2 separate regions of the Homo sapiens genome follow, and region 2 is reported to be linked to region 1. The links are microRNA targets in miRTarBase. Many come from high-throughput screens and were not tested one by one. Region 1 holds a microRNA gene; the other region holds the end of a gene's coding sequence.

Evidence for each region. Region 1 holds the annotated microRNA hsa-miR-208a-5p (GAGCUUUUGGCCCGGGUUAUAC, at 4,457-4,478, shown strand). A microRNA usually pairs through its seed, bases 2 to 8, with sites in the 3' UTR of a target mRNA and lowers its output. Matches are read on the target gene's strand: a 7mer-m8 pairs with bases 2 to 8, a 7mer-A1 pairs with bases 2 to 7 and ends in A, and an 8mer does both.
Region 2: miRTarBase lists ZSWIM9 as a target of hsa-miR-208a-5p. Seed matches in the 3' UTR shown: 7mer-m8 at 1,113-1,119.

The regions. Positions count from the first base shown.
Region 1 is chr14:23,386,651-23,393,114 of GRCh38, reverse strand. MIR208A (microRNA 208a) reads left to right here and starts at 4,449; the gene lies at 4,449-4,519. MYH6 (myosin heavy chain 6) reads left to right here. Exons shown (of 39, transcript NM_002471.4): 24 at 58-203; 25 at 463-553; 26 at 2,669-3,058; 27 at 3,396-3,522; 28 at 3,604-3,722; 29 at 4,060-4,256; 30 at 4,777-4,960; 31 at 5,192-5,357; 32 at 5,462-5,586. RefSeq lists enhancers at 2,964-3,567, 3,568-4,171, 6,221-6,464.
Region 2 is chr19:48,196,237-48,199,236 of GRCh38, forward strand. It overlaps ZSWIM9 (zinc finger SWIM-type containing 9), which reads left to right. Exons shown (of 4, transcript NM_199341.4): 4 at 1-1,384. The coding sequence ends at 591. Among named protein-coding and RNA genes, the nearest start is that of ZSWIM9, 27 kb to the left of the region's middle. RefSeq lists an enhancer at 278-790.

The sequences.
Region 1 (6,464 bases):
GCATACACTATGGATTTCATGTTTTCCACACTTTGCTTATTTTCTTCCCTCCAACAGCTGGAGGGATCCCTAGAGCAAGAGAAGAAGGTGCGCATGGACCTGGAGCGAGCAAAGCGGAAACTGGAGGGCGACCTGAAGCTGACCCAGGAGAGCATCATGGACCTGGAAAATGATAAACTGCAGCTGGAAGAAAAGCTTAAGAAGTAGGAGACTGTGGTGGCCAGGAGGGGCTAATGGAGGTGTCTGGCCTGGTAGATAGAGTGCAGGGTGCTGCGCCTCCACTGGCCACAGTTGCCTTGGGTATGCTGGGAATAAGGTCAATCACAGCCCTCTTCCGCCACTTTCTGGGCTGGCGAGGGGAGGGGGAGGTGCCGATTCTGGCATACTAAGGCCAAGAAGAGAATGAGCCCCAGAGGAAGGAAGGCTACCTGTCACTCCCCCACCCCCACCCTTCTCCTGCAGGAAGGAGTTTGACATTAATCAGCAGAACAGTAAGATTGAGGATGAGCAGGTGCTGGCCCTTCAACTACAGAAGAAACTGAAGGAAAACCAGGTGACTTTTTTTCCCAGTGCATGAAAGTGGGAGCTCAATAGCCCTGAGGTAACTGAGGCTGCAGCAGCTGCTTAGGGTTCTACACAATATCTGGAACTCCAGGCAGCCTCATAGACCCAACCATCCCTGACTTACAGGCGCTCAGGAACACTAGCCTTCCCCCATAGAGCAAGAATACATTACGTTAGCAAAACTGTTTGAGAAGGGGGACTCATACCTACTAAAGGGCTTCTCCTTCTGAGATCTGCTCTGCCTCAGGGACTTTCTACTCTAAGACAAATGATAGAGCTCTATTCTCCTCTAACCCTTCCTCTGGTAGTTCAGCCCTCTGAACGCAGGGTGAAAAAAAAAAAAGGCTTCAAGGAGCACCTTCCTGTGAGCTGCTCTGTTCATATTCTTCCCGGTACTAACCCCAGCCACTAACCCAGGCTGAGTCCCCATAGGGCACTCATGATAAGAGCCAATTCCAACAACTGTGAGCAAGTCACTTACCCTCCCTGATCCTCAGATTCTCTTCTCACCTGTAAAATGAGACTGACAATACCTACCACACAGGACCAGAGGGGATAATGTATTTGAAACCATTTTGTCAACTAGGAAATTCTATACAAGTATCATATTAATATAGCCCAATTTAGAGAAGTCAGCCAGCCACTAGCCTAAGAAGGTATTGTTTTGTCTTCTCAATGGCCTTCTCATTCCTCTGCAGCTCAAGATTTAGTGAACAGCCATAGTCTCCCTTAGCTTTAATGAACCTCAAACCCTAATGTGCTTTTAGTATCGGGTTTGTCAGAAGAGACCTGGAAGTCCACTGCCATCCCCATTATAGAGCTACAGAAGCTACATGGCCAGGTCTGGACATAGTGACCCCAAGGGCAACAGGAACTCGGCTACTGGGGCGGGACCTTGTCCTCTCACTTTGGGGCAGACTGTGGCTGGTAGAAAGAGGTAGTCTCCCCTCTGCACTTGAGGCCCATGGCCCAGGCTGCAAGTAATGTATGAACACAATTCCACTCCTCTGGGGCTGCACAGGGACTGGCCCGCCTTCATTAGTAATTTGCCCTCCCATCTTCTTGGATGCCCCTTCTGGGTTTTAGCTAGAATATCGGGCCATCCTCAGGTTCTTCTACCCTAGGTCTGGGCAACTTGTTTGGCCTCTTGGACACAGAATAACAGTCCTGTTAGTCTCATCAGCTCTCGGCAATAGGCTATGGCTCCTCCTTCATCCCCAAGATCTTGCTCAGAAGTCCCACCTTCTCCATCCTGGGAGCAGAGGCATGGTGGTCCTCTCTGCTGCTTGTAGGACCCATCCATGAACAGTCCATTAAAGCTGTCCATAACCCGAGGTGAAGGGATTTCCACTGAACCCCCGTTTTGCTCCTGGCTAGCCAGACAACAGATCAAAATGGTAGATACGATATTCTCCCAATTTAGTCAAGACCAAGGCTAAGGCCCAAAAAATGAGGTAAGGGCACTTAAAGAGGATAAGGAGATGAGGTGAAGAGGAGAGTAGCCTGCTAGCACTTTCCTGGCCTGGAAGGGAGCAATCATGTTGAAACCCAGCCCTGGGCATAAACACAGCAAGCCTGGGAGAGCAAGGAATATGGTTGATTGGACTTTGTGGTTAACTTGGAGAATTGCAAAGGTATCTGATTGTTTCGAGGCATGTTGTCACAAATATTTGTAAAATACAAGCACTCATTTTCCCGTCTTATGAATAGCGCAACAGAGCCTAGTGAATCTGGGGACTCTGAACTTCTTGATCTCACAGGATACCAGGATCCCCCTTCAACCACAGGTTCTCAGGATTTGGGGCTGCAGATGCTCACACTGGGTCTGAGATGCCCTTGGGAGCTTCAGCCAAATTCCTATTGATGGCCTATGCATTATAGGATGTTTAGTAGCATCCCTGGCCCCTACCCTCTAGATGCCAGTAGCAAGCCCCACCAAGACATGACAATCAGACATTGCCAACTGTTCCCTGGGGCACAAAATTGCCCCTAGTTGAGAACCACTGCTTGAGAGGAACCTAAGTTCCTGGTAGCTTTTCAGAGCCGGGGGGATTCCAGTGGAGGGGTCCAGGCGGTGGGTCTGAGCCCTTTGTGTCTGACCCAGGCACGCATCGAGGAGCTGGAGGAGGAGCTGGAGGCCGAGCGCACCGCCAGGGCTAAGGTGGAGAAGCTGCGCTCAGACCTGTCTCGGGAGCTGGAGGAGATCAGCGAGCGGCTGGAAGAGGCCGGCGGGGCCACGTCCGTGCAGATCGAGATGAACAAGAAGCGCGAGGCCGAGTTCCAGAAGATGCGGCGGGACCTGGAGGAGGCCACGCTGCAGCACGAGGCCACTGCCGCGGCCCTGCGCAAGAAGCACGCCGACAGCGTGGCCGAGCTGGGCGAGCAGATCGACAACCTGCAGCGGGTGAAGCAGAAGCTGGAGAAGGAGAAGAGCGAGTTCAAGCTGGAGCTGGATGACGTCACCTCCAACATGGAGCAGATCATCAAGGCCAAGGCAGGCTCTGCTCGGCCTCCCCTCGCCCTCTCCCCTGCACAGCGGAGCCTCCCCCATGCCTTCTCTCTCTGTCTGCCATCTCCCTTGTCATTCTCATTCTCTTCATCACCCTTTGGTCTCTCTTCCTGTCTCCCCTGCCCCTCTCTGGCTCTCCTCACCCTCTCTATCTCTTCATGTTCCTCCTTTCTTTAATTCAAGTCTCTCTTCAGACTGCGCCCTCCCACACCTTCTGTGTCCCCCTCCTGCCCTCTGGCATTCCCCATCTCTGACCCTCTCTTCCTTCCTCTGGTCGACTCAGCCCCTCCCACACTCACCCTTCCTGTCTTGCTTCCTGAAGGCAAACCTGGAGAAAGTGTCTCGGACGCTGGAGGACCAGGCCAATGAGTACCGCGTGAAGCTAGAAGAGGCCCAACGCTCCCTCAATGATTTCACCACCCAGCGAGCCAAGCTGCAGACCGAGAATGGTGGGTGCCCCTAACCAACCCCCTGCCTAGGGCAGGACATGACTTGTGAAATGGCCCACAAGCCCCTCATTTCACCTCCAGGAGAGTTGGCCCGGCAGCTAGAGGAAAAGGAGGCGCTAATCTCGCAGCTGACCCGGGGGAAGCTCTCTTATACCCAGCAAATGGAGGACCTCAAAAGGCAGCTGGAGGAGGAGGGCAAGGTGAGGCCCAGTGGGGAGGGTGGGCAGGCTTGATGGCAGCCCTGGGGCAATTCATCTCAGTGCCAGAAATGGAGCCTGGAGCTGGAAAGAGTCCTCTGCAAGGGAAAGACCCTCCAGTCTAGGTTCTGCCCTGCAGCTAAGCGTCATTTAATGCCTCTTTTCTTATTCGTAAGGGGATGGGGTGAGCAGACTGGGAAACTCCTCAAACAGTGAGGTGCCACATCAGCCCACATGGTGAATAAGGCTGGGCTTGGTTGAAGTACTACATAAGAAGAGAATCTAGAGAATGGGGCACAGGGAGTCCCTCCCACCTCCTGGTGCCCCCCCCCCTCCCCAGGCGAAGAACGCCCTGGCCCATGCACTGCAGTCGGCCCGGCATGACTGCGACCTGCTGCGGGAGCAGTACGAGGAGGAGACAGAGGCCAAGGCCGAGCTGCAGCGCGTCCTGTCCAAGGCCAACTCGGAGGTGGCCCAGTGGAGGACCAAGTATGAGACGGACGCCATTCAGCGGACTGAGGAGCTCGAAGAGGCCAAGTGAGCTCCAGATACCCCCTTAACCTGACTCTCAGAGAGGAAGGGGCGAGAGGACCTGGGGTGGGGACAGGCAAAGTGGTCATGAGACGGAAGTGGAAGAGACAGGAGGAACTCGGAGGGCAACAGAAGTGCTTGGAAGAAAGCCTGAACTCTTTGCTCTGTGAACTCTGGCTGGCCCTGACCCACTTCCTGTGACGGGCGAGCTTTTGGCCCGGGTTATACCTGATGCTCACGTATAAGACGAGCAAAAAGCTTGTTGGTCAGAGGAGCTACCGTCGATCAGCCTGTGTGGGGGGTGAGGGCAGGGGGCACTGACACCCAGATGCCACTGCAGGTAGGGAGGACGCCTGGGCAGCCCGTGCTGGCGGACTCTGTTCCAGGCATGAGCAGGCTCAGCTCCTGCTAGGCTGGACTTACGGTGTCTCAAGGAGATATAGGGAGGGGGTGGAAGGAGGTCCACCCAAGGCTCCAGTGTTGCCCAGTAGAGTCACACACACACCCTCCACCCTCACCTGGGCAGAAAGAAGCTGGCCCAGCGGCTGCAGGATGCCGAGGAGGCCGTGGAGGCTGTTAATGCCAAGTGCTCCTCACTGGAGAAGACCAAGCACCGGCTACAGAATGAGATAGAGGACTTGATGGTGGACGTAGAGCGCTCCAATGCTGCTGCTGCAGCCCTGGACAAGAAGCAGAGAAACTTTGACAAGGTGGACCATGGGCGGGGGCCGCAGCCAGCATGCAGGGCAAGGGGGCATGAGGGGTTCAGTGAGAGGCCAAAGGCAACCTCCTTGGAGGTGGAGGAGGAGGGCTAAGCCCAGGCTCGGGACCAGGGACAGATCTTGGACATGCGGCTGAGGCTGGGGGCTGGGGCACTGGGAAGCAGGAGGGCTGGGGAGCTAAGGCTGGGGGGCTGAAGAGTGAGCCTTGTCCCCGGGCAGATCCTGGCCGAGTGGAAGCAGAAGTATGAGGAGTCGCAGTCTGAGCTGGAGTCCTCACAGAAGGAGGCTCGCTCCCTCAGCACAGAGCTCTTCAAGCTCAAGAACGCCTACGAGGAGTCCCTGGAGCACCTAGAGACCTTCAAGCGGGAGAACAAGAACCTTCAGGGTGTGCTGGGGGTCCAAGAGGCCAGAGATGAGTTGGTGGGAGGGAGGGCCATGCAGGGGCAGGGGGAACATAGGCTTTGAGCTTTCTGGCCCTCTGGTCCCCAGAGGAAATCTCGGACCTTACTGAGCAGCTAGGAGAAGGAGGAAAGAATGTGCATGAGCTGGAGAAGGTCCGCAAACAGCTGGAGGTGGAGAAGCTGGAGCTGCAGTCAGCCCTGGAGGAGGCAGAGGTGAGGGCCGAGAACTCCCTGCACCCCATCCCTGTTCTGCCGCTGTCTCCCACTTCTCCCTCACCTGGGGGTGACCCTGACCCCAGGACAAAATCTATTCATTCCATATTCTTTGTTCAACATTATCTACCCACTATTCACTACCCATGACTGCCTCCAAAGCCAAGGTCTGCACAAAGGAAAATGTCAGTCTGATTAGAGGCCAAAGGTTTTGTTTCCCACCAGGTTTTAAAAGTTGGAATCTGGCCATAATAATAACCACTTAGACAGTGGGTAGGAGTGTGGGGTTCCAGAGTCAAACAGGCCTGAGTTGGAACACAGCTTGAGGACTTTCACTGCAGCGTTGGGCAAAATCTTTAATCTCTCTCTGCCTCAGTTTTCTCATCTGTAAAATGGAATTAACTGTACATACCTCATATGATTTTACACATGATTATTATAAAGATTAAATGAGGTAACACATTTAAGCACTTAATATATATTAGCTATTGTTACTCTTCATTTCTAAGCACCTGGGAATAGCCCTGAGTTTTCTGGGCTTCTAACTTTTCTCAGGAAAGGGTGAGGGACCTGGAAAACAAGATAAAATTTTGTATTTGTGGTTATAAAAATTCCTCCATTTTCTATAATACTTTAGACAGGTCAGGAATTTATGCAGTGTTAGTGCTGGAGGGTCTGGCAATTGTGAGGTCCAAACCCTTTTCTTGACAGGGGAAGCCCAGAGAGTCCAGCACTTTCTCCCCAATAGCACCGTGGTGGGCATGGGGTGCAGATCCCACCTCCCCATCTCTTCTCAGCTCTTCTTCTCTGGGCGATAGTCCTGGCTGACACCGTGTATCTTCTCATCCTCCCTCTCAACCCTGCCCTGTGCCCTGTCT
Region 2 (3,000 bases), not on the chromosome of region 1:
GTCACAGGCATGGAGAATGGAGATGGAGGGGGAGCCCGGTCCGTGGGCCCCAAGAGCCGAGCCGGACGAGGGATGGAGTGGGGAGACGCAGGAGGGCGGTGTCTAGGGCTGGGGAATGGAGTCGTGTCTGGCACCCCGGTGGGGACTGTATTGGAAGGCAGCCCAGAATGGGCAGCGGCGAGGAGTGAACACCTGGCTGCAGGTGACGGCCTGCAGGAAGGAGGCGAAGATGGCCCCAGGGAACCAAAGAGGCTTTGCCGACCCCCGGGAGAGGAGGAGGTGGACTGGGAACCCCTGGCCAAATTCCGAGCAGCCTGCGGGCCAGAGCTGGCAGACCTGGTGGCTGAGGAGTTGGCCTTTGCTAGGCAGCATGGGACCCGGGGTTTCCACTGGACCGGAGCTGGCTTTGCCCTTAAGGACGGCACCTCGGACTTCTTCCTGGATGGGGCCCTGACACGCTGCAGCTGCTCAATTCACGCCGCCCGCCGTCTGCCCTGCAGACACCTCTTTGCAGCGCGCCTCCTCACTGGGGCTGCCTTATTCCACATGGACCTGCTCAGGGATTGCTGGGGGAGAGCCCCAGAGCCCTGACCCTTCATGCCTCTGCCCACCACCCTCCACCAGGAGGGTCGGAGGGCATTCTTCGATCCCAAAGATAATAGGGCTGAGGCCAAGGAGACCGTTGCAGTCCCCCTGGCCACCTTCTGGGTCATCCAGGGACCTCCTCATGGCAGTTTGCCTCTCTGGGTCCAAGGGCAAGCTGTAAGTGGTCTCTGAGGTCCTGGAGCCACAGCTTGGGAAGGTGTTGATGGGCAGGGTGGATTCTGAGGGCTTCCCTCTGGAGAGGAAGCATGTGATGAGAGGTGTAGACAGGGTCAGGCTGGGACAGAAGGAAGGAAAGGGGCAGAGCTGGGGGGAGGGGGAGGAAGCGATCATATGGGGAGTGTCTGGCAAGAGTAGACTGGCCAGTCTAGGGAGTGCAGCGGGGAGAGGGGAAAGGGAGAAAGTACAGAAGACAGATGAAGGAGAGGAGGTAAGCGAGAAAAAATGGAAAGGGGAGCCGGAAATGGAGGAGAGAGGACAAGCAAAGAGACAGAAATGAAGACATGAGGAAAAGCTGGGGGAAGCAGGAGAGGAAGGGACGGGATGTAGGAGGGGGAAGAAAAATCGGAGATGAGACAAAAGAAATGTGTGGGAGACGGGTAGAGACGAAATGCAAGGGGCGTGGTTTTGGTTTTTCTCCAAGACCTGGAGACATCGACCCCCATCGCCTTCTGAAGAGAGAGGGAGGGCGGGCACTGGGGGTCAGGAGAGTCTCCAGCAGGGGAGGGGAATTGTTTGGACTATTGTTCTTCAGGATTGGAATAAAACAATCTTATTTTGGTTTCCGTGATGAGTTCTTGGCTTCTGGGGTTGGTTGGGAGTCCCAGATCCAGGGAACAGTTGAGATGGTCCAGCGTTCCTTCATTCTTTCTACCGACAAGGCCTCCTGGGGCCAGATGGATAGAGGAGCCACAATGAATTCATCTCCATAGCAACTCAAGCTTCCTCCTCCATCATCTGGACCAGTGCGTCCCAGTGGCAACTTCTTGACATGAGTCGATTCTACCTTCAAATGACTGACTCATGCCAAATGTCCTGGCCACAGAATGGGCCTGTGACCCAGTCCTGGTCAACGAGTCTGCTCAGGTTGAGGTGGGAGGCTTTTTTATTTTTATATTTTTGTAGAAACAGGGTCTTGCTATGTTACTCAGGCTGGTCTTGGACTCCTCGGCTTAAGCAATCCTCCTGCCACAGCCTCCCAAAGTGCTGGGATTACAGGTGTGAGCCACTGTGCTCAGAACTAGGAAGCTTTTTTTTTTTTTTTTTTGAGTCTTGCTCTGTTACCCAGGCTGGAATGCAATGGCACGTTCCCGGCTCACTGCAACCTCCACCTCCCAGGTTCAAGTGATTTTCATACCTCAGTCACCTGAGTAGCTGGGATTACAGGTGTGCGCCATCACACCTGGCAAATTTTTGTATTTTTAGTAGAGACGGGGTTTCACCATGTTGGCCAGGCTGGTCTCAAACTCCTGACCTCAGGTGACCTGCTCGCCTCAGCCTCCTAAAGTGCTGGGATCACAAGCGTAAGCCACTGCGCCCGGCCTAGGAGGCTTCTAATAAAGATTCTATCACTCCTAAGAAGGCCTAGAGACATGATCAGGCCTAGACCTGCTGATGATTACCTTGGTATGGTGTGATAATGAAGTCCACACTGAGGATGACAGAGCTGAGATGAAGAAAATCTGGATCTTTGCTTGGCTCAGTTGAGTCTCTCGAGTCTGCTCTACCATGGGGCTTCTTAAGTAAAATATATCCTTTTTTGTTAGAGACAGTGTCTCGCTCTGGCCCAGGCTGGAGTGCAGTGGTGCAAACATAGCTCACTGCAGCCTTCCAGCTCTTGGGCCCAAGGGATCCTCCAGCTCAGCCTCCTGAGTAGCTAGGACTATAGGCTCGTGCTACCACCTAGCTAATTTCTTTTTCTTTTCTTTTCTTTTCTTTTTTTTAACTTTTTGTAAAGATGAGGTCTCTTGCTACGTTACTTGGGCTGTTCTCAAACTCCTGGCCTCAAGCGATGCCCCTGCTTCAGCCTCCCAAAGTGCTAGAATTACAGATGTGGGCCATTGCACCTGGCCAATCAAAGATACCCTAATGATTTAGGGAAGTTTGAGTTGGGGTTTCTGTTGTCGCAACTGATGAAGGGGATTTAATTCTATTATAGGTGACAAAGTCCAGGTTGAAGTAGCTCAGCATTTTTCAAACTTTAGCGTGGACGTGAGTCACGTGGGCACCTTCTTAAAATACAGAGTCTGACTCAGTAGGTCTAAGATAGGGCCCAACATTCTAGCAAGCTCTCCGATGATGTGGCTGTGCTGGGTTGTGGAGCACACTTTGAGTAGCAATGAAGGAACTTGAGATAAAAGACAATTCAGGCCGGGTGTGGTGGCTCACACCTGTAAT